2 separate regions of the Homo sapiens genome follow, and region 2 is linked to region 1. Evidence: fine-mapped expression QTL. A gene starts in region 1. The other region holds a variant in brackets. All regions are shown on one strand. Distances are from middle to middle. Region 1 holds the start of GPR35 (G protein-coupled receptor 35). Region 2 has its middle 22 kb from the start of AQP12B.

Evidence for each region. PIP is the estimated chance that this variant, and not a neighbour inherited with it, causes the effect.
Region 2: its variant is the best candidate, but not a certain one, in a credible set for the expression of GPR35 in tibial nerve (GTEx, PIP 0.67).

The regions. Positions count from the first base shown.
Region 1 is chr2:240,622,366-240,631,780 of GRCh38, reverse strand. It overlaps GPR35 (G protein-coupled receptor 35), which reads right to left and starts at 6,301. Exons shown (of 2, transcript NM_005301.5): 1 at 6,213-6,301; 2 at 1-1,832. The coding sequence starts at 1,828. The coding sequence ends at 899. RefSeq lists a silencer at 1,375-1,669 and enhancers at 5,841-6,347, 6,955-7,104.
Region 2 is chr2:240,652,528-240,668,639 of GRCh38, reverse strand. No RefSeq gene overlaps it. Among named protein-coding and RNA genes, the nearest start is that of AQP12B, 22 kb to the left of the region's middle. RefSeq lists a silencer at 12,260-12,309. The variant C/T (reference allele first, on the strand shown) is at 7,645.

The DNA of each region.
Region 1 (9,415 bases):
CTGTCCTTCCAGCTTGGGTTTCGAGATGCCCTCCATGCAGGAGTACAGGAGAGGCAGAAACCAGCAGGACATCGTGCCTTTACCTGAGTGGGCACCCAACCCCTGCCCCTGCCAGACATGGTTTCCAGCCTTTCCCTGAAGGAAGGAGAAGAGGGCTGGGTTCCTTGACAGACCCTGGCCACCCCCTTCACTGCCACCCACCCCAACCCACCCTCACCTGCTTGACCTTGGTCACCCCCCCTTGCACCGCTGTGCAGCCCCTACATGGAGATCAGCTGCTCCCAGCCCTGTCTTGAGCAAGGAAACCTGGGCTGGGGGCCTCTACTGTGGTCCTGCCAGGAGCTTCCAACAGCCCCTGCTCACGCTCCAGGTGGGTGGGGGTGGGAAGGGGTGAAAGGGTCCAAGGGGGACCTCAAAGTGAAGAGCCCCGAAGGGTCCCTGGAAGATGTCCGCCAGCCCTCTGAGCCACGCGCTCCCTCCCTGCCTCCCACCACACGAGTGCGAAACACAGAGGGCCCCACTAGGACTGACTCTGGGTGGGGAGTTTTATTCCAGCCCCGAGGGGCAGCGGCAGGTGTCATCAAGGCTGCACCCTGGCCAGCAGGAACCCACTCTGGCCAGGTGAGCTGGTTCTGGGGGTGGCAAGTGTGAGGCCCCATCCCGGGGGTCTCTGACATTGGCCTTGCTCTGGCCTCAGTCCTCTTGCCCTTGTCCCTGTCCCTCTCTCTTCCCAAGAGAGCAGGTACCTGGGCCGTCCCTGCCCACCCAAGGCTCCAAGAGAATACACAGTGAGTTCAGGGCTGATCTCGGGCTCCTTGCTACTGGTTCCAGCTTCCCCTGGCAGGCAGCACCTCCCGGAGCCCCCGAGACCTGGCCCACAGCGCCCACAGCACGCCTCTTAGGCGAGGGTCACGCACAGAGAGTCCTGGCTTTTGTGGGCCTTAGCACTGGGAGCCACGGCCAGTGCAGACGCCTCCTGGAACTCCTTGGCCATGTAGTAGTAGCAGATGGCGTCCAGGCAGCAGTTGGCATCTGAGAGCTTGCTGGTTATGTACAGGGCGCGACGGATCGTCTCCAGGAGGGCACAGGCGTTCCAGCCCACTGCGAGGCGCACTGTCAGCCCCACGTGCAGGGGCAGGAAGCAGACCACGAACACCAGGAGGTTGGCCCAGACCATGCGGGCAGCCTTGCGGGTGGCCTCTGCCTGCCCCACGTCGGTGGGTGGCCTCTGGGCCAGGGCAGTCACCACCTTCAGGGAGCAGAAGACCACCACGGCCAGGGGCAGGTAGAATCCCAGCAGCGGGAACGCCATGGAGTTGAAATTGTGCCGGGTGCTCCTGAAGCAGAAGCCGCCCTCCTGAATCCCCAGGAGCCAGCGAGCCACCAGGGAGCCGATGACCAGCACCCAGAGGACCGCGCACACGGCCGCAGCCTGCCTGGGGGACCGCAGCCCGCGGGCACGCAGCGGGTGCCGCACGGCCACATAGCGGTCCACGGCGATGGCCGTGACCAGGCTGATGCTCATGTACCTGTTGGTCAGGTAGATGCCCTGGGAGAGCTGGCACAGCGGCGTGTCTGAGGTGTCTCGCAGGGAGTGCAGCACGAAGGGCAAGGTGCACAGCAGGCAGAGGTCGGCCACCGCCAGGTTGGTCATGTAGATGCGGGTCTCCGTCCACTGCTGCATGCGGCAGCAGAACACCCAGAGCGCCAGGCTGTTGAGCAGCAGGCCTAGCACCAGCAGGACGCCCAAGTAGGCGTAGAAGCCCAGCTTGATCGCTGGGGGCCAGGTGAGGTCGCTGGAGCCACAGGTGTTGTAGGTGCCATTCATGGTCCTGGGGCAGCACAGGGAGCCGGAGGTCAGCAGAGAGTGAGCAGGGGGAGCAAGGCACTGCCCCCACTCTGCCCACCTCTGGGCAGGGATGTGGGAGGAGGTGAGCCCCGACCCCACACCCACAAACACAAAACTCCTCAAAGAAAGCATGGGTGCCGTAAAGAACTCCAAGTCACCCTTGAGGTCTAACCCCTGGACAGATCCTCTTCCCATCTCCTGAGCTCTTCTCTCCTGGGATCTGCCTGCTGTCATGGGGCAGGAAAGGAGGCAGAAGGAGCTCCACGTTCCCCTCCAGTCCCCAGCCCAGCAAGCCCTACCCTCCAGAGCGCAAATCCTGGACAGGGAGCCCAAAGGGCCACCAGCCTTACCCAGCACACAGCTCTTAGCAGGGAGGGCTCAGAGGCAGCAGCACCTGTCAGCCCAAGGACGGGAAGACCAGGCTCCCGGACAAAGCCCAGGGTGGCCCCTCCACCCCTCCTGGCACCCGGCTGCAGGAGGCACCCACATTTGACTCCACACCTGCATCAGCCCTTCCCCACAGCAGAGTCCAGGACAGCTGGGACTCTGGCCTGCCCCTACCTCCCTGTGAGCCCACCCACCCAGTCCTGAGCTCTGGAGGTCCTGCCTGCATCAGCCTGAGGCCCCATCCCAGTCCCACACCTGGGATCAGGGATTCACCCCTTGAGCTCCCAGGGGCCAGAGCCTGTGACGGCAGCCCTGCCCCTTCAGGCCCAGTCGTGCTGCTCAGGGGCCGCCCAGGGGTGGAGCTGAGTATCCTCCTCTCCGTCACTATCAGGACCACCCACAAAGTCACCCCTCCACTGTCCACGCCAGCCTCTCGCTGTCCCCAACACCCTCCGCGACATAGCCCAGGAAGGCTGAGACCAGCCCCGGCTGGACCTGGGCAGGGTCTGGTGTCCAGGACACGGGCTAGAGTCATCCTGACTCGGCCACCCCTGCAGCTGGGCAAACTTGTTTCCTCATCATAAGGGGTGCTGGTGTCACACGCAGGCAGGTGTGAGACGGAGCTGCTGGTGAGCGCCCAGAGTCCAGGACTCACAGCCACACGTCCCACCACCTGGGTTACTCAGTGGGTCCAGGAAGAACCCGGAGGGGTGAGGGCGGGAGAAGCCTCTCCCCCAACCATCAGGCTGTCCTCTGGGGCATCCTGCAGTGGCTTCCTGCTGGGCTGGTATGGAAGGTGGGAAGGACTCAGCCCACAGCGAAGGGCCTTCCTCCTCCCTCTGCCTCCTCCCTCTGCCCAGAGGAGCACAAAAGGTCCCCCAAATCAGGAGGGGAGAGCGCCCAAACCCCGTGACTGCAGCTGCTGGGGACCATTAGTGCTGGGACGCATTTCCCCACGGTGGTCCCCGGGAACTCCAGGTCCCCAGTCCATGAGGGATGGAGGGCACAGGTTTCAGACAGAAACGAAACATTCTGCCCCCTGGCTTCATTCTGTCTCCTTAGATCCCACCTCTGGTGAAGTACAGCAGATATTTGCTGACTTCCAAGTTTCAGGAGCCCTTCCCCCGAGTGCAAAGTGCTGCACGCCCAGTGGTCTCTCTCCTCCCTTCTTGAGGGTCCTGCTTGCTTTCTCTCTGATTCATGAGCAACACTTCACCCTCGTTCCAGGGACTTTTGGAGGGACCCTGAGCCAGGCCAGGCTCCGAGGACATCCCCAGAACCCACTGGAACCAATCGCTGGGATCTTCCCTTCCTGTTGGGCCTATACTCCTGTGGCAGCCCCCGCTGGGGGCCAGGAGATCCCAGAACCTGCTCAGAATCTACACCTCAGAGGCACCTGAGCTGGGCAGGCACTGTGCGTTGGGGAGGGCTCCGTGCGACTGGCCTCCTACTCTCCCCACCTGAGTACTTGAATCCACCAGAAGTCCAGGGCCAGCCTTGGGCGGTGTGCAGACCTGGAGGGGGAGGGGGTCTGCACAGCTAGAGGGCGATTCTTTTGCTGCCCCACCTTGAGTAGAGGCAGCCTGGGACCCTGCCTCGTGGGAGGTGAGGACCCGAGGGCTCGTGTGCCTAGACCCCTTCCCATTGCCCCAGCTTCCCCCATCGCTCCCCATGGCTGCCAAGGGGCTCTCAGGTCACACATACCCAGGGCTGCAACTTTCATACTAGCCTCGGTGTGGCCCAGTATTTTGTGGGGGAATGTTTAACTGCAGGCAGGCACGGTGGCTCATGCCTGTAATCCCAACACTTTGGGAGGCTGAGACAGGAGGATGACTTGAGGCCAGAAGTTTAAGAACAACCTGGGCATCACAGGGAGACCCCGTCTCTACAAAAAAAAAAAAAAAAAAAAAAAAAAAGACAGAAAATTAGCTGGGCTGGTGATGCGTGCTACTCGGGAGGCTGAGGCAGGAAGACGGCTTGAGCCCAGGAGGTTGAGGCTGAAGTGAGCTATGATCCCACCACTGCACTCCAGCCTTAGGAGACAGAGTGAAACCCCATCTCTAAGAAGAAGAAAAAAACTCTAACTACAACATTTAAATTTTCCTGTTTATAATAAAACAAACACTGAACTATTAGGGAGAAAAATGCAAATGTTGCAAGAGTTTCGAGGTGCACGTAGGCTTCGAAGAAGTGCCCTGTTCATGGGTCCTTGTCTCGCCCGTGGAGTGCCTCCCAGAAAAGTTCAGGAAATCAAGGCCCAGGCTTTAGCCCAGATGGCATGGGGCCCCTGGGAGCTAACATGGCCAGCACAGATGCCCACCTACTGCCCCAGTCCCGCACAGGAATCTGTGTCCAGGCCGTGGACCGTAGCTGGCCTCCCGCCTCAGCTCCTCAGGCCTGTCTTCCTCGACAGACACCAGCACCATCAGCCTCAGGGAGCTCCCGCTGCCGGGGACCGTGGGGATGGGGCCCTTCCACTTCCTGCCCAGGAGGCTTTGGGGATTGGAGCCAGCAGCACGCCTCTGAGGCCCCGCTTCCCCTTCTGATGACAAGGTCACCCTCGGCTTCTGCACACAAAAGCAGAAAAGTGCCCTTTGATTCTGCACTGAGTGATCCAGGAGAGAAACCTGGCCATAGACGGGCGATCCAGCCACACCAGAGCCCCTCCCCAGCCCTTCCCCCTGTCTGGACCCGGGACCCGCCCAGACCCCAGAGTGCCTGGCTGGCCTGGGATTGAGACCACAGGCCCCAACCACTGCTGAAGACGTGGGGGCACGCAGTGAGGTGCAGATCCCTGTGGCCCAGGCACCAGAGTCCCCCGTACCTGTGACCCCACTGGGCCTGGGCCCCACACAGCACACCACACCCCAGGACCCAGGATGGGGCTGTGAGTGACACGAGTTCACCAAAGTAGCTGCTCACCTCGGGGCCACAGCACGGGGTATTCTTCATTCTTGTTTTTAAATGTCACATCCCACACTCCAACAAGCTGCTACCCAGACACAGGCTCCAAGTCTTCATCAGCCTCAGCCACCCCTGAGACCCCAACAGCCTCAGCCCACCTGAGACCCCAACACAGCCTCACCTCACTGAGACTCCCCATCACAGCCTCACCCCACTCTGAGACCCCATCACAGCCTCACCCCACTCTGAGACCCCATCAGAGCCTCACCCCACTCTGAGACCCCGTCACAGCCTCACCCCACTCTGAGACCCCGTCACAGCCTCACCCCGCTCTGAGACCCCATCACAGCCTCACCCCGCTCTGAGACCCCCATCACAGCCTCACCCCACTCTGAGACCCCCATCACAGCCTCACCCCACTCTGAGACCCCGTCACAGCCTCACCCCGCTCTGAGACCCCATCACAGCCTCACCCCGCTCTGAGACCCCCATCACAGCCTCACCCCGCTCTGAGACCCCCATCACAGCCTCACCCCGCTCTGAGACCCCGTCACAGCCTCACCCCACTCTGAGACCCCCATCACAGCCTCACCCCACTCTGAGACCCCATCACAGCCTCACCCCACTCTGAGACCCCATCACAGCCTCACCCTGCTCTGAGAACCCATCACAGCCTCACCCTGCTCTGAGAACCCATCACAGCCTCACCCCACTCTGAGACCCCATCAGAGCCTCACCCCACTCTGAGACCCCCATCACAGCCTCACCCCACTCTGAGACACCCATCACAGCCTCACCCCACTCTGAGACACCCATCACAGCCTCACCCCACTCTGAGACCCCATCACAGCCTCACCCTGCTCTGAGACCCCCATCACAGCCTCACCCCGCTCTGAGACCCTGTCACAGCCTCACCTCGCTCTGAGAACCCCCGTCACAGCCTCACCCCACTCTGAGACCCCATCATAGCCTCACCCTGCTCTGAGACCCCATCACAGCCTCACCCCACTCTGAGACCCCCACCATGCCCCTGCCCCGCTGGGAGGCCCCTAGGGCAGTGGGCGGCACTGACCTGCAGGCAGCTTTGGCCTCCCGGGTGGAGTGTGTGACCCCCGCTGCCAAAGCCTGCACAGTGGCTGTCTGAGAAGGGCTGGGGGAAGTGAAGCTGGGGTGAGCCACCCCTCAGGGCTGGTCCCTGACTCTGCCCCTCCTTAAGGTGGGGGGGCGGGCGGCTGACTGACGGCAGCAGGTCAGGGGTAACAGGAGTTCCCCACTGCTCCTGCACCAGCCCCAGCTAGAGGGCGTGGGGGATTTCTGGGAGGGAAGTGGGGTGCCGGCTGCCTGTGCTGACACCTCTGAAGAGCCAGCATCCTTGCTGAGGGCACACATTTGTTCTGGAAACAGCGTGAGAGACAGACAGCAAAACCAGAGACGCTCCAGCCCCGCCCACGGAGCCTTCCTCCTCCCCAGCCCACTTCTGCCCTGTCATCTCGGAAACCTTCCCAGGGCCCAGCCCTCCCAGGGTCTGCGGTCAGCTCGCCCTCCCCAGCGCCTCATGCCCAGCCCCAAGACAGGGTGCAGCACGCACACTCATCCTGGTTCATGCAGACACGCTCCGTGGGCGCCTTCCAATACACACACACACGCTGGCACACATGCACACACACATGCACACGCCAATGCACACAGGTGAGAGGCACACGCAGGCAGGCTGGCTCCTCCCCTGCTTCCCCCCGACTTGGCCACCGGCCCCTCCTCCAAGCCCACCCCCTCAGAAGCCTACCCAGACCACCCCTATCTGGTCTAGAATATTCTCCCTGGCCCCCAACTCCTCAGCGGACATCTTCCTTCTGAGCTCATGGTGGGGGAGCCCGTAGGCCCAGGCTGCGCCCCCATGGTGCAGAGCACCCCCTTCCTGGGCCCTGTCCACCCTGAGGGCAGGAGCCTCGTCTCCTCAACGTGGGCCCCACAGCCCCTGACCACAGCCTCTCCCTCCTCAACGGCTGGGATAGGCTGGGGAGAGCTTCAGTTTCACCCCTCCCCACTTTACAGCGGTGGAAACGGACGCCCAGGGAAGGGAAGCGCTTGGCCCAGCGTCACACAGGTGGTGGCAGGTCTGAGACCAGTGCCTGGGCCTCCTGAGCCAGACCAGGGCTCTCTACCCAGAGGCACGTGAGGAAGCCCTGGCTGGGCATTGGTCCTTCTCTGCTGTCATCCCGGGCCTGGTTCCTGTCCCTTTCTTCCTGCTTCCTCCTGCTGTCCTTCCTGCCCTTCCTCCTGCTTCCCCGGCTGTCCCTCCAGGCCCAGTCCCCAGTGTGCGCCCTTGGGTTCCCTGCCCAGTCTCCATGGGCCATGATGTTCATTGGAGAGGGGCCTCATCCTCGGGCAGGAGGCTCAGATTTGGGATTTCATCCATCCCTCACTCTGGCCACAGGGTCTGGCCTCTGGGGTCAGCAGAAGGCACGGCACCTGATCAGTCCAAGCCCGGCCGCCGTCAAGCAGGGACTGGAGGTGCAGGGCACGGCATCTCCCAGGAGTGCTCCTTCCACCTCTGGCAGATCAGATGGTGCCCCAAGCAGGCCTACCCAGCCCACCAGAGCCAGGGCCCTGCAGAGCTCCCCCACCCCCCCCACCACCAGGCCAGCCATGAACTCCACCGTGCCCCCTCTGCTGGGCATCACTCCTCCCCAGCAGTGGCCTGGGGCACCCCGTCCCCACCAGGCCTGGCCTCCCTGACGTGGCCTGGCACCTGTGCTCCTCACACACTGGAAGGGAAGCCCCACTGGGCAGGGCCACATGGTCCCAGCGGATTCTTCTGGGCTGTGTGGACTTGGGGAAGAAACTGGACATTTAGAGACTCTGACTGTCTCTGGGAAGGGCCCCTTGCCACCAGGTTCCACCTGTGTACAGGAAACGCTGTCCCCAGCCCACCCCCTACCTCTCTCCATCTGCCCCTTGGCTGTCTCCGCAGGCACTTCAGGGCAGTCCCACCCAGCCTGGAGCCTGGGCCCTCGTGCTCTGCCCCCTCCCACTCAGGCAGGCCTTGCCCGGGCCCCTCCAGAGCGCTGTTTCTCTCCTAGCTCCCCGCTCACCCCCAGGGCCCCTCTCTCCCCAAAGCTGCACCCTCACGACCTGTTTGCACCCTCACGACCTGTTTGCGCCCTCACGACCTGTTTGCACCCTCACGACCTGTTTGCGCCCTCACGACCTGTTTGCGCCCTCACGATCTGTTTGCGCCCTCACGACCTGTTTGCGCCCTCACGACCTGTTTGCGCCCTCACGACCTGTTTGCGCCCTCACGACCTGTTTGCGCCCTCACGACCTGTTTGCGCCCTCATGACCTGTTTCCAGCCCTTCACCCTGTTTGATTTTATCACAGAACTTATTTTTTAAGTAACCCTTTCTGCGCACTGGGCTTGTGCTTGTGGGACTCTATCTGCTTCCTGCCCTGTCGGGGCCCTGGCACAGAGCCCGGCCTCTGTGAAGCTCGACGACCGCTCACCCACAGCGACTCCGGCCGCGGGGCTGCGAGTGCCGGGGACATATCAGGTGCTCAGTCGTCGTCGGCGCCCGGCTCAGGCACGGTCGCCTGGGGTCCTCTGCTGCTGCTCAGGCCCTTCTTCGAGGACACCCGGAGTCCCCAGGTTCGAGAGGCCAGATGGCAGGTTTCCAGTCCAGGCCAGGCCTGTTCTCTCCCTGCTGGGCAGCTTCAGACCACCTGGCCCTCTGCGGAGAACTGGCAGCCAGGGTCCTGCTGTGGGCACGGGGGCACTGCCCGGGGCCCTCCGCCCCCAGCCTCTGCTCCTGGGCAGCTTCCTCTCCGAGGCTGCCCCCTCACCCCCAAGGTTAGCCCCCTGCAGCAGCGCCAGCCCCTCCCACTTCACCCCGCTGGGCTGTATGTGTGACGCGAGGAGCTCCGAACAGGATTCCTTCCTGCCCCTCCTCCTGCTTCTCCAGCTAGAGCTGCCGGACGCCACCCCTGCAGCCCTATCTAGGGGAGCCTCTGCAGCAAGCTTGTCCAACACTCGGGCTGCGGGCTTTGAATGTGGCCCAACACAAATTTGTAAACTTTCTTAAAACATTATGAGATTTACGCAGAGACCTTTTTTTGCTCATCAGCTATCGTGAGTGTTAGTGTATTTCATGTTTGGCCCAAGGCAATTCTTCTTATTCCAATGCGGCCCGGGGAAGCCAAAAGATTGGACAGCCCTGCTTTGAAGGGAAGTCTGTGAGGCGATGTCAGGGAAGCAGGAGCCTGGGAGAGCCAGAGAAAAG
Region 2 (16,112 bases), 34 kb before region 1:
ATTCTTTGACCCATGTGCCATTTTAACATGTGCTATTTAATTTCCAGATACTTGGGGATTTTCCAGCTGTCTTATTGTTATTTGTTTCTAATTTTATTTAATTGTGGTCTGAAAGATCCTTTGTATTTTTGTTTTTCACATTTGTTAATGTATGGCTTATGGCCCATTGTGTGTTCTAATTTTGTGAATGTTCCATGAGATCTTAAGAAGAATATGTATCCTCCTGCTGTTGTAATTAAATTAGCTCCTCTCACATTCTTTTGATTAGTGTTGGCATAGTATATCATTCTCTTACTTGACTTTCAACCTATCTAAATCTTTGTTTTTTAAATGAGTTACTTATAGATAACATATAATTGGATCTTGTTTTTTTATCCTCACTGACAATCTGTCTTCTAATTGGTATATTTAGACCATTCACGTTCAACATGATCATTCATATAGTTGGATTAATATGTATCACATTTGTATCTGTTTCCATTCATTAATTTCACTTTTTTTTTTGTTTCTTCTTTTCACCACAGACACCTCTTTTTACCGTCTACTCTGGTTTTAATGAAGCATTTTATACAATTCCAATTTAGCTCCTCTATTAGGCCATCACTAGGGTATCAAAACAATATGTTTATATTTTTAAAAATTTTAGTGGTTGTCCTAGAGCTCCCAATATACAATTTTAACTAATGTAAGTTGAACTTTGAATAGCACTCTATTGCTTCATGTGAAGCATATGTACCTTAAGCAGAGCGTTTTCAATTCATTTCTATGTAAGTGTTCCCAATCTGTATGAGTCAAGACACAGATGGCCTGAATAGCACTAACAATCACCTTGATCTTACTGACATTTCTGGAATAACCCATCTAATGTGTAGGATATGCATTATTCTCAAACTCTCATGGAACACTCATCAAAGTAGACCACATTCTAGGCCATAAAACACACATAAACAAACATAAAAAATAAAAACACAAAGGATCTTTCAGACCACAGTGGAATAAAATTAGAAGTCAACAACAGTAAAATAGCTTTCCCCAAATATCTGAAAATTAAACAGCATAGTTTTAAATAGCACATGGATCAAAGAATTATTATCAAGATAAATGATAATTAATATTTTGAACTAAATGAAAATACCACTTATCAAAATTTGTGAGATGCAGGAAATGCAAAGCTTAGAGGAATATATAGCATTAAAATGCACATATTATAAAGAAAGAAGTATCTAAATTCAACAACCTAAGATTCCATCTCAGGAAACCAAAAAGAGAACAATTTAAGGCTAAAACAAGCAGAATAACAAAAATAATAAAAACTAGATCGGAAATCAATGAAACATACAATGGAAAAAAGTAGAGAAAATCACTGAAACCAAAAGCTTTTTAAAGGAGATCAATAAAATTGGCACAAACTTCAAGCCAGACTGCACCAGAAAAAAAGAGAAGACACAAATTACTAATATCAGAAATGAAGAAGGAATCATCACTACTGATTCTTTGGACATTAAAAGAATAATAAGGGAATACCATGACCACTCTATGTCTGCAAATTTCATAACTAAACAAAATGAACCAATTCCTTGAAATATCAAAAATCAAAAATCACAAAAAAAGAAAAAGATTATCTGAATTGCCATGTCTACATGTATATAATAAAGAAGTTGAATGAATAATTAATGATTTCAACAACAACCAAAAAACCACAGTACTTTCAGACAGTTTCACTGGTGAGTTCTACTAAACCTTTAAGGAAGGTAAAATTAATATTAATTCTCCATAATCTCTTCCAATAAAGAGAAGTAGAGAAAACACTTTTTACTCATTCTACGCTGCTAGCATTACTCTAACACCAAAGGAGACAAAGAAAACTACAAACCCGTATCTCTTATGAACATACACACAAAACTCCTCAACAAAATATCAAGTCAGATCCAACCATATAAAAAAATAAATTATATACTGCTACCCAGATATCCAAGGTTGTTTCAATACTTGAAAATTATTCTAATAACCATAGCAACAGGCTAAAGAAGAAAAATTATATGATTATATCAAATGATTTAGAAAAAGCATTTACCGAATCCTACATCCATTCACGAAAAATTCTCAGCAAATTAGGAATAGAGATGCTGTTTCTCAACTTGATAAAGCTCATCTACAAGCAAACTTACAGCTACAAGGAAACATCACACTTAATGGTGAGAAGCTGGTCACTTTCCCACTAAGATCACAAACAAGGCAAGGATGTCCCTGTTCACCACATCCACCCAACATTGCACTGGAATTCCTAGCATATGAAACAATACAAGAAGAAGAAATGAAAGGTATATATATTGGAAAGAAAGAAATAAAAATGAAGAAATAAAGGAGAGTAGTTATTTTTTACTAACAATGCTGAAACAAACAGAAGTCTATGTGAAAGTAAACCTAGACATGAGCCTAACACTTTCTCCCCAAATTAACCCAAAATGGATCATAGACGTCAGTGTAAAATGCAAAACTATAAAATGTCTAGAAGAAAACAAAGGAGGAATTCTGTGTGACCCTGTGATTGATGATGTTTTTGGATACTACTCCAAAAGCATAATTCATGAAAGAAAAATTAACTTTGGATATTAGATAAAATTTTCTGCCAGCAAAAGACATTGTTAACAAAATATAAAGACAGTTCATGGAATGGGAGAAAAATCTTCGCAAAATACATATCTGATAAAGGACTTATATTCAAACTATACAAAGAATTATTAAAATTTAGTAAGAAAACAACCCAAATTAAAAATGAACAAAAGACCAGAACAGACAACTAATCAGAAAAGATACAGAGATACCAAATATGCATATGGAAGTGCATATTTGTCAAATGTACATTTCCATATGCATATTTGATATATATAATTGCATAATTCATCATTAGAGAATTAAAAATTAAAATAATAACACACCTATTCGAATGGCTAAAATCCAACAACCTGATAATACCAAATGTTGATGAGCATGCAGAGCAATAGGAACTCTCACCCATTGATGGTGGGAATGCAACATAGTACCACCACTTTGGAAGATAGTTTGGCAGTTTCTTACAAAGCTAAACATAGTCTTATCATATGATCAGGCTATCACACTCCTAATGATTTTCCCAACTGATTTGAAAACTTTATGTCCACACAAAAACCTGCATGTGAATTTTCATAGCAGCTTCATTCATAATCACCAAAAATTAGAAGCAACAAAGATATCCTTCAACAGGTGAATGAATAAGCAAACTTTGGTACATCCATACAATGGAATATTATTCAGTAATAAAAATAAATTAGCTGTCAAGCCACAGAAAGACATGGAGACACCTTAAATGCATATTGATAAATGAAAGAAGCTAGTCTGAAAGGTGATATACTATACAGTGGTTATATAGCATATATCAATAATTATGATATAACATGGAAAATGTCAGTGGTTGTCAGGGATTTGAGGGGAAAGAAGAAAGTTAAAAAGGTGAAGCAAAGGAATTTTTAGGACAATAAATCTATTCTTTAAGTACTATATTCTGTATAATGCTATAATGGTGGATACTTGACATTATGCAATTCTCAAAATCCATACTACTTTACAGAATAAAAGATAAATGTTAACATATGCAAAATTTTAAAAAGTCATTTAGGAGGTTGGAGGCTCTCAGGAAAGAATGCAGACTATGACAAAAACATCTAACTGTATTACAAGTGTATAAAACAACCTCACTGAAGGGAGTGGAAAGAAAAGGTGCTCACCTAAGTAACCTTGGAAATGAGTGTTGCTGCAAGACTGAAGGCAAAGGACACTGCACATAAGCACTGTACTCTACCTGATAATGTCATTTCCCACAGGCGTGAGGGTGAACAATTCTTATGCCACTATATGTGTATGCTAAGGTTGGACAGTTAGGCTAATGGATGGCAGATGGTGGGTGCCAGGTTTCTTACTGGGTGGGATAAGTAAGGGAAGGAAACTAGAATAATCTACATGGTAATAGATTTGGAAACATCAAATGAAGTCATGATTACTTAGAGAAATATTTATAAATATATGTATATACATGGGATAGAATACACACATATATTTCCTCATTGTGTCAGCAGAGAGAGCCTAAACAAATCAGCACCTCAATAGCAACAAGCATACCCGGCTTCCAGATCTTGATTTCTTTTTTTTTTTTTTAGATGGAGTCTTGCTCTGTTGCCCAGGCTGGAGTGCAGTGGCGTGATCTCGGCTCACCACAACCTCCACCTCCCAGGATCAAGTGATTCTTGTGCCTCAGCCTCCTAAGTAGCTGGGATTACAGATGTGGGCCACTACACCTGGCTAATTTTTGTGTTTTTAGTAAAGACAGGGTTTCACCATGTTGGCCAAGCTGGTCTTGAACTGCCAACCTCAAGTGACCCATCCACATGGACCTCCCAAAGTGTTGGAATTACAGGTGTGAGCCACCATGCCCGGCCCAGATCCTGATTTCTAAGACCACTCTCCAATAAAAGGAGCCAAGATTTCTTGGAGAAATGGATGACTCTAGGACCGGGGCTAGAAATATAAAAGATGAGCCTAAAGCATCTTGTAGTGCCAGAAAGTTAGGAAGTGCTGGACACAAAAACCCACACTGGTGGCAGCACGTCAGAGAGACACAGGAGCCAACCGAAAGAGCTCCCCGGTGGCCAAGATTGGAATAGAGTTAACAAAACAAATAAAATAATATTTAATCATAGCCCAAAGTATAAAAAAAAATCCATGAATCCATGCTGATATAAATTAATTGTAGAATAAATAAGTTAATGGGGTAGAAGAAACAAAAGTCATGTGTGGAAAAATTCTAAATATTTTATGATGCTACTCTTCCCTCAAGGAGAGGAAGCATAACTTCCCACTCCTAAACTGTGGGTTGCACATGAAGACTTCCTTCTAAAGAATACAGTATGGAAAGGAGGGAGGGGAAATAGTCACTTTACAGTGGAGAAAACTCACCACACTACCTCAAGGTCAACATCAACAGGGATAAATGATGTTGATACGATGTCAATAGTATGTACCCTTGATATAATGTGACAAAAATGGTACTTTACTTCTGTAGTCTTCTCCCCAAAACCCATCATTTCAGTCTCATAATGAAAAAAGTCAGATAAATTCTAATAAAATTACATTTTACAACATACCTGAGCAGTTGCTCTGAGAGCCCCCAGCTAAACTGGGGTTCCAGTACCACAGCAGCTAGCAACCCTGCCCTAACAGAAAATGAAGAGGGTCTGGACATGGGTGTTTACGGTATCCTTTTTTTTTTTTTTTTTGAGATGGAGTTTTGCTCTTGTTGCCCAGACTGGAGTGCAGTGGTGTGATCTTGGCTCAGTGCAACCTCTGCCTCCCAGGTTAAAGCAATTCTCCTGCCTCAGTCTCCTGAGTAGCTGGAATTACAGGCATGCACCACCACATCTGGCTAATTTTGTATTTTTAGTAGAGACAGGGTTTCTCCATGTTGGCCAGGCTGGTCTTGAACTCCCGACCTCAGGTGATCTGCTCACCTCGGCCTCCCAAACTGTTGGGATTGCAGGTGTGAGCCACCGTGCCTGGCCTACGGTATCCTTTCATGGGCTACTTCTATCACCTGGAAGACAACCTAATACCTAGTGTCTGACCCGTGACCAGGGAGGTTCCTTGCACTGGAAACTTGTTTATACTGGCAGATAGCTTAGTGGCCCTTGTCTGACTCATGTCTAGCTTATGTCTGCCTGATCTTCATTCTGTGTCTGCCTGACCATCACTCTGATGCTGGGAGCCTGACCTTGTGTTCTTCTGGTGGAAGGTGCAAATTCAGTACACCACCACAATATGAAATATGTTCAAAGATTTATTACAAATAGATCTTGGACAGTAAGAGCACAGTTAGGAGGGAAGTCCTTCATCCTCCAGCCACTTGAAGTTCATGGGGAAATGTCTGAAAGGTTCATTTGAAAGAAGCCACAGGAAAGCAGGGAGCCCAGTCTGCTGGGTGTGGAAGATGCCTCTAAGTTCATTTTTGTTTGTTTGGTTTTGGTTTTGAAGATCTTGTTGCATACCAGACTTCTAAGTTCTTCTCTCTAGCCACTGGCTTCAACCATTTGGATGTTCTACTTCTAATGCCTAGGGAGCAAACATTGCTGTGGCATTCTCATTACATCAGCACTCCTCAAAACTGTCAAGGCCATCAAAAACAAGGAAAGCCTGAGAACCTGTCACAGCCAAGAAAAGCTTAAGGAGTCATGACAGCTAAATGTAATGTGATAGCCTGGATGACCTGCTGGAACCGAAAAAGTGTGTTAAATGAGACATAAATATAAACAAAAAAATAGATAAAAACTAAACTATCAGAATAAACTACCACGTTAGATAATGATCAATATTTGTACATCAATTGTAATAAATGTACCATATCGACATAAAATGTTAATGATAGGGAAAACTGGGTGCAGAAGATATAAACAAACAATTTATGTTGGCAGATTTGTGGCTCTTGTTCAACCCACGTCCAGTTTATGTCTCCCTGATCATCACTCTGGGAACTATTTGTACTATCTTCTCAACTTTTCCATAAATCTAAAACTATTTTTTAAAATAATTTCTATATAAAACAAACAAAACAGAAGGAAATACACCATGACAAAGTGGAATTTATTCCAAGTATGCAATACTGGTTTAAAATTAGAAAGTCAATTAATATAATCCATCACATCAACAGGCTAAAGAAGAAAAATTATGTCACAACAATAGGTGCAGAAAAAGCATTTGACAAAATCCAAAACCCATTCATAATTTAAAATCCTGAGTAATCTAAGAATAGAGGAGAAACTTCCTCAACTTGATAAAGAATATCTACAAAAAAAACCAAAAAACAACCTACAACTAATATTGTACATAATGGTGAGAAACTAGATTTCCTGCTAAGATCAGGAGCAAGGATGTCCCCTGTCAGCACTGCTTTTCTACATTGTACTGGAAGTCTTAGCTAATGTGATATCACAAGAAAAAGAAATAAAAAGTATATAGATTGGGAAGGAATAAATAAAATTCTTTATTTGCAGATGACATGATCATTTATGTAAAAAAAAAAAAAAAAAAAGGACAAAAAAAAACCCTCCTAGAACTAACAGGTGATGTAGTGTCCCCAGCAAACCTCTTGTTGAATTGTAATTCTCAGTGTTGGGAATTACAACAGTGGGGCCTGATGGGAGGTGATTGGATCATGGGGTAGATTCTTCATGAATGGTTTAGCACCGTCCCCCTGCCTTGGTTCTGTATAGTGAGTGAGTTCTCACAAGATTTGGTTGTTTAAAAGTGCGTGGCACACTCCCCTCTCGGTCCTGCTCCTGCCACGTGAGATGCCTGCTCCCGCCATGTGAGATGCCTGCTCCCGCCATGTGAGATGCCTGCTCCCGCTTTGCCTTCTGCCATGAGTTAAAGCTCTCTGAGGCCTCCCCAGAAGCAGATGCCACCATACTTTCTATACAGCCTGCAGAACTATGAGCTAATTAAACCTCTTCTTTATAAATTACCCAGTCTCAGGTATTTCTTTATAGCCGTGCAAGAACTGACTAATACAGGTGATTACAGCAAGGTTGCAGGATACAACATTAACATACAAAAGTTGGC[C/T]GGGCGCGGTGGCTCATGCCTGTAATCCCAGCACTTTGGGAGGCCGAGGCGGGCAGATCATGAGGTCAGGAGATCAAGACCATCCTGGCTAACACGGTGAAACCCCATCTCTACTAAAAGTAAAAAAAAATTAGTCGAGTGTGGTAGTAGTCCCAGCTACTCAGGAGGCTGAGGCAGAAGAATGGTGTGAACCCAGGAGGTGGAGCTTGCAGTGAGCTGAGATTGTGCCGCTGCACTCCAGCCTGGGTGACAGAGCAAGACTCCATCTCAAAAAAAAAAAAAAAATACAAAAGTCAATTGCTCTTCTATATACCAGCAATGGACAAGTGGAATGTGAAATTAAAGACATATTACCATTTACTTCAGCATCCCTCAAAAATTAAATACTTAGTTATAAAGCTAACAAAATATGTATATGACCTATATGATGAAAACTACAAAACTCTCATGAAATAATTTTTTAAAAACTAAAGAAATGGAGAGATACTTCACGCTCATGGACAGGAAGCCTCAATATTATTAAGATGTCACTTCTTCTCAACTTGATGTATAGATTCAGTACAACCCCAATCAAAATCCCAGCAAGTAATTTTGTGGATATCAACAAATAAATTCTAAAGTTTCTGTGGAGGCCAGGCACGGTGGCTCACGCCTGTAATCCCAGCAATTGGGAGGCCAAGGCGGGCAGATCGCTTGAGGTTAGGAATTCGAGACCAGCCTGGCCAACATGGTGAAACTGCATCTCTACTAAAATACAAAAAAATTAGCCAGGTGTGGTGGTGCTGAGGAGGCTAAGACAGGAGAATTGCTTGAACCCGGGAGGCGGAAGTAGCAGTGAGCTGAGATTGCACCAGTGCACTCCAGCCTGGACGACAGAGTGAGACTCCGTCTCAAAAATAAATAAATAAATAAATAAATAAATAAATAAATAAAGTTTATGTGGAGAGGCAAAGGACTCAGAGTATTAATACAATACTGAAGGAGAAGAACAAAGCCGGAGAACTTACTTGACTTCAAGACTCACTATGAAGCTACAGTAATCAAGGCAGCGTGGTACTGGTGAACAAATAGACAAAAGATGAATGGAACAGAATAGAGGCCCGTAATAGAAGCACATAAATATAGTCAATGGATCTTTGACAAAGGAGCAAAGGAAATACAGTAACAAAAAGATAATCCCTTCAACAAATGATACCGGAACAACTGGACATCCATGTGTAAAAAAAAAAGAATCTAGACAGACTTTACACTTTTCACAAAAATAAACTGAAAATGGATAACATCCTTAAATGTAAAACACAAAACTGTAGACCCTTAGAAACTAACATAGGAGAAATTCTAGAGGATCTTGGGTTTGGTGATGACTTTTTAGACACAACACCAAAGACAATAGCCATGAAAGAAAGAAAAGGTAAGTTAGACTTTGCTGAAATTAAATATTTCTGCTCTATAAGAGACATTGTCAAGAGAATGGAAATGCAAGCCACAGACAAGGAATGACATGTCTTTGCAAATGATGTATCTGATAAAGGACTCTCATCCAAAATATACAAAGAACTCCTAAAACTCGAAAATAAGAAAACAAACGACCCAATTAAAAGATGGGTCAAAGACCTTAACAGATACCTCAGCAAAGAAGATAAGCAGACAGTAAATAAGCATACGAAAAGATGCTCCACATCACATGTCATCAGGGAAATGAAACTTAAAACAACAACATGCCACTACACACTTATTAGAATGGTCAAAATCCAGAACACTGACAACACCAAACGCTGGTGAGGATGCAGAGCGACAAGAAGGCTCATTCACTGCTGGTAGGAATACACAATGACACAGCCACTTTGGAAGACAGCTTGGCACTTTCTTACGAAACTAAATATACTCTTACCATATGATGCAGCAATCATGTACCTTGGTATTTATCCAAAGGACTTGAAATCTCATGTCCACACAAAAACCTGCAAACAGACGTTTATAACAGCTTTATTCATAAATGCCAAAACTTGGAAGCAATCAAGATGTCCTTCAGTAAGTGAATGCATAAATTCAGACAATGAAAATAAGATTGACCTTAAGCAAGATTAAGCAAAAAGAACAAACCTGGGTAGATATCCAGTAGTGGGATTGCTGGATCAAATGGTGGTTCTACTTTTAGTTCTTTAAAGAATCTCCACACTGTTTTCCATAATGGTTGACCTAGTTTACATTCCCACCAGCGGTGTAGAAGTGTTCCCTCTTCACCACATCCACACCAGCATCTATTATTTTTGGATTTTTTATTATGGCCATTCTTGCAGGAGTAAGATGGTATCACATTGAAGAAATGAAGTCATTATACGAAAAAGATATTTGCACACGCATGTTTATAGCAGCACAATTCGCAATTGCAAAAACGTGGAACCAACCCAAATGCCCATCAATTGAGTGGTTAAAGAAACTGTGAAATATATATATATATATGGATGGAATACTACTCAGCCATAAAAAGGGATGAATTAATGGCATTCGCAGTGGCCTGGATGAGATTGGAGACTATTATTCTAAGTGAAGTAACTCAGGAATGGAAAACCAGACATTCTGTGTTCTCACTCAAAAGTTGGAGCTAAGCTATGACGATGCAAAGGCATAAGAATGACTCAAAGGACTTTGGGGACTCAGAGGGAAAGGGTAGGAAGGGGGTGAGGGATAAAAGGCTACAAATTGGGTTCAATGTATACTGCTCGGGTGATGGGTGCACCATAATCTCACAAATCAGCACTAAAGAACTTACTCATGTGACCAAACACCACCTGTTCCCCAGTAACCTGTGGAAATAAAAAATTTTTAAAAAATACTATTGGCATTAAAAAGAAATGAGCTATGAAGGCATGAAAAGACATGGATAAACCTTAAATGCATATTACTAAGTGAAAGAAGCCAATCAATCATATATTATGTGATTCAAATATATGACATTCTGGAAAAGGCAAAGCTATGGAGACAGTAAAGAGATCAGTGGTTGCCAAGGGATGGGGAAGGCGGAAGATGGATGAACAGGTGGAGCACAGAGGAGTTTTAGGTAGGATGCTCTATATGATACTGTCATAGTAAATACATGAGGTAGGATGCTGTATATGATACTGTCATAGTAAATACATGTCATTGTAGATTTGTCAAAACCCATAGAATGTACAACATAGAATGACCCTTAATGTAAGACATGGGCTTTGGGTGATAATGATATATCAATGTAGGTTCATTAATTGTAACAAACATGTCACATTGGTGATAGATGTGGGCAATGGAGAGGCTAGGCATGTGTTGGGGGGAGGGAGTATATGGGAAATCTCTGTATCTTCTGCTCAATTTTTCTGTGAACCTAAAATGGCTCTAAACAATAAAATCTATTAAAAATGAAGTTTATTTTAAAAATCAGAGGGAAAAAACAGTAAACAGAAAATAAAATGGCAGGATTAAGCCCTGTTATATCAGTACTTACATAAAATGTAAATGGACAAATATACCAATTTAAAGATATTGGCAGAATGGATACAAAAACATGATCCCGATACACGCTGTGTTTCAGAAACTCATTTCAACTGTAATTATTATATGATTAGGCTGAAGATAAAAGGATGGAGAAAGGTAGACCATGAGAACATGAACAAAATCAAGTAATCATGGCTCTATTAATACAGATAGAACCTTCAGAGCAAAGAAATTACCAGGGACAATTACTCATGTGCATGCAGCAAACAGAAGAACTGTACCATTATCCTTCCCTCACGGAAAGACTTGTATAATTATATGAGTTCTCCCCGACCCCCTCCTCCCCAGCTCCCCAGAAAAGCAGAGGAATCTCCCCAGCAGGGACCCTCCCTTGGCCCCTCATGTTCAGTGTGAGCACACACCAGCCCTTGGTGCCTATAGCTTCTTTCTTTTTGGAAAACCAGTGTTTCAATTGCCTGTTTCAATTCTTTCTCAAGCCATTGCTCTGAAGATGAGTGTGTTTCTTGATGTGAAGAAATGTAACTCAGCAGTGCACACTGGCATGAAAGCTTCTGTTCCAGCTCTTTTACAGCACTCTGTGTATTTGCATGTACCACTGGGCAAGCAAAGCCCAGCCCAGAGTCAGTGTCTGTTCCTTTCAGGACCTATTTGTAGGCTTCTGGGGCTACAGAATCAATTCTACTTGCCAGCTATGTGCAGGGCCTCCCCCTTACCCCCCTCTGCTTCCAGGTAAATCTGCCCTGCAGCCATCTGCAGTCTCTGTCTCTGTATCAGCAGATAGTTGCATCTCATGGCTCCGAGGGTGTGTTGAGGGGGAGGACATGTTTAGGCGCAGCCCTTCCCTGCGCCGCTGCAGCCTCCACATCCACGGCTTCCATGGGCCCTTGTGGCCATCCCAAGTGAATGCACCAGGACTCCCATTTGCCAGTTCCGATCACCTTCTGATCCTGGAAGGGGTTCTTCTGATGGATATTGTCATGTTCTACTTTAATGCACCCCTGAAACTCCCACGGTGATTTTCAAGGGGCCCTTTCTTTAATAGACTAGTTTTCCACTGGCTATCTGCAATCACATGGCCATGTCACCGGCCACCCCTTATGAGTCAGTAAAAACCCAAACAGGAAAACCACATGCAAGTCAGCCCACTGAGCTAGTTTGACTTTTCCTTCTTCAATCAGAGAATCATGCCTGTAATCTCAGCACTTTGGGAGGCAGAGGAGGAAGAATCACTTGAGCTCAGGAGTTTGAGACCAACCTGGGCAACATAGCCAGACCCCATCTCTAAAAAAAAATTTTAAAACTTAGCCAGGTGTGGTGGCGGGTGCCTGTAGTCCCAGCTACTAGGGAGGCTGAGGCAGGAGGATCACTCAAGCCTGGGAGTCTGAGGCTGCAATGAGCAGTGATCACACCACTGCACTCCAGCATGGGTGACAGAGCAAGACCCTGTCTCAAAACACAAACAAAAAAAACAAAACAAAACAGAGGGACAGCCTTCCAAACAGGATGCTCCCCATTCTGCCTGAACCTGCTGTCCATAAACCAAGCAGCTTCCTGCTGATCCGTTGGGCACTGTTTTCATGGTGACAGCATCTGGCAGCTCCTCAGAGGATTCCAACGTCCGTCCTCGGGGAAAAGAGGCTCTGCTCATGGGGTGATGAGCTCCTCCTACCTTCCCCCAGGAGCATGTACCTGTACCCGAATACATAAATTAAATAAAATTTCCATTTTATTCCGGAATTCTTTTGGGCACTGACCTCTCCATGGGAGTGTTTCTCTGGCAATGCTTAAGACATTCTGGGTATTTCAGGTTCTGGGGTTATTTTATGTCCTTCAGTCATAGGAACAGTCTTAATCAAAGCTCAGTAACCCGCAAATTGTCTCTCAAACAGAAATTTCCAGTCCAAAATCGCACTTCTCACTGCTGGATGGTGCTCACAGGCTTGACTGTGAGTCCTGGTCTGCCTCACACAGGGCTGGACCATACAGAGAATGTGTGCCTGCACTCCTGCTTCTAACAGGGCATTCATTCAAGTGGTAAGCCCTTTTTGTCCACCAGCTGTTTAATACTGTTTCAAATTAATGACCTCTGTGGGCTTAGACAACGTTATTGGCTCCATTTAGCATGCCCAGCCAATATTGGCTGAAAGGTAGATTTACCTGTTGATATGGTTGATATGGTTTGACTGTGTCCCCACCCAAATCTCATCTTGAATTGTAACTCCCACAATTCCCACATGACATGGGAGGAACCTGGTGGGAGGTGATTGAATGATGACAGCAGGTCTTTCTATGATAGTGAATGAGTCTCACGAGATCTGATGGTTTTAAAAATGGGAGTTTCCCTGCACAAGCTCTGTCTTTGCCTGCTGCCAACCACGTAAAACATGACTTGCTCCTCCTTGCCTTCTGCCAGGATTGTGAGGCTTCCCCAGCCATGTGGAACTGTAAGTCCATTAAACCTCTCTTTCTTTTGTAAATTGCCCAGTCTCAGGTAGGTCTTCATCAGCAGTGTAAGAATGGACTAATACACCTGTCTTCTGTTTTACATGTGACCTAAGGGAAGCATCTGCCAGCCAGATGCAGTATCTACCCCCATGACACATTCAGGTGCAGCAGGTGCAACCACATCACATAAAATCTGCTCAAACATTCCGATATTCATCGGAACTTTCACCTTCATCCCATCAACCTTTGCTTCCTGCACCCTCCCACCCCAGCTGTAGCTTCTACAGAGACTTCACCAACAGGTTTGGAATCACAGTAGGAGAACAGCCTGTTGCTGTGTATTTATCTCGAAGCAAAAACACCATGATGACCAGTGTTTGATCCCCACATACCAAGGTGTTCTGCAGTAGGGTCTGTAGACATTGCCTGCAGCAGAGAGAACCCTTCAAAAAGACGTCTATCTAACCTGCTCAGTGGACACACGTCTTGGCAAGAATGTCCGAAGATATGACCAGCTGCACACGTTCTATCACACAAGCTTGCTAGATAAAGGATACTTTCTGGCCTGATGTGAGTGACTCACACCTGTAATCCCAGCACTTTCAGAGGCTGAGGCAGGCGGATCACTTGAGGTCAGGAGTTTGAGACCAGCCCGGCCAACATGGTGAAACCCCATGTCTACTAAAAATACAAAAATTAGCCAGGTGTGGTGGCACATGCCTGTAATCCTAGCTACTTGGGAGGCTGAGGCAAAAGAATCACTTGAACCCAGAAGGCAGAGGTTGCAGTGAGCTGAGATTGCACCACTGCACTCCAGCCTGGGTGACAGAGGGAGATTCCATCTCAAAAAAAAAAAAAAAGATGCTTTCTGGAGGGCAAGTGGCTCACAGCCCCTTGAGACGTGGCTTCTGTTCATAAGTCCCTATTTTTTTTTTTTTAAGATGGAGTCTCGCTCTGTCGCCCGGGCTGGAGTGCAGTGGCGCAACCTCGGCTCACTGCAAGCTCCACCTCCTGGGTTCACGCCATTCTCCTGCCTCAGCCTCCCGAGCAGCCAGGACTACAGGTGCCTGCCACCACACCTGGTTAATTTTTTGTACTTTTAGTAGAGACAGGGTTTCACGTGTTAGCCAGGATGGTCTCGATCTCCTGACCTGGTGATCCACCTGCCTCGGCCTCCCGAAGTGCTGGGATTACAGGCGTGAGCCACATAAGTCCCTATTCTATATTTCTTTCTGAGAAGCTGTATTTGTCAGCTTCTTTCTTCGGCCTCTCAGCTCCTGGGGCCTTTGCGGGTAGGTTTGCACTGACCTGCTCACCATGGAGCAATCTCAGTGCATGGGGCTCTCGTGTTGAGGAGTCCCAGAAACATTTCTTCTCCATCCCCTGAGCATTTTACCCACTCATGGGTGTATAGCATTGGGTCCCCAGCCAGGGGTCAGGCCAAAGGATGCCTGACCCTCTCATCAATCAAGCCCTTATCTTGATTGGATTGCAGGAGCATCACTCTAGGTGACTGGAGGCCAACTTGCTCATGGTCACCTTTGCCTTCTAATGTTTTCTATTTCTCCAAACTGGATGAACATAGGTTTAGGCCCTTTAGTTTGGGGCACACAGGAGCTCCCAGCAGTTCCAGTTTCTGAGAGTGCTGCCGTAAGAGTGTTGTTTTAACCCCATTAATGTCTGCTTTGCTCTGCCCATGTCTGTCTGTCTTTCTTTCTTTCTTTCTTTCTTTCTTTTTTTTTTTTGATGGAGTTTTGCTCTTGTCACCCAGGCTGGTGTGCAATGGCGTGATCTCAGCTCACTGCAACCTCCGCCTCCTGGATTCAAGTGATACTTGTGCCTCAGCCTCCCGAGTAGCTGGGATTACAGGCTCCCACCGCCACACCTGGATAATTTTTGTATTTTTAGTAGAGACGGAGTTTCACCATGTTGGTCGGGCGGGTCACGAACTCCTGATCTGGGATTAGAGGCGTGAGCCTCCGCGCCCAGGCTTATTATTATTATTTTAATTAGAGATGAGGTCTTGCTATGTAACCAGGCTGGTCTCAAACTCCTGGCCTCAAGCGGTCCTCCCACCTCAGCCTCCCAAAGTGCTGGGATTACAGGCATGAGCCACTGAGCCCGGCCATGTTCTTTCCATTTCTTAATAACTGTTGAAGGATGTTCACCTGCTGGGATGGGCTCCTTCACTCTCCCACCTGACTTTCCTCATTCTTTTGCAAAGCAGTCTGAATTTCCCCACAATCTGTTGTTTCCACACAACTTTTTCCTTTGGCCCTGAGGCCAGCGACTATAGCTTGGACCTCCCAGAACCCAGGATTGGTGCAATGTCAGGATTCAGCCCAACATCTTCCTTACCTTTCCCTCTAACCTTCCCATCGGTCATGGCCCCAAGGCAACCACCTCGGCCTCACTACCCATTGGCTCAGGCTCAGAACCTCTCTCTTGCTTTCATTTCAGCTTTTACAGAAACAATAACTCACAGTGGACCCATATGAAGTGCCACTAGTGATGCTGGAAGTGCCCAAGAA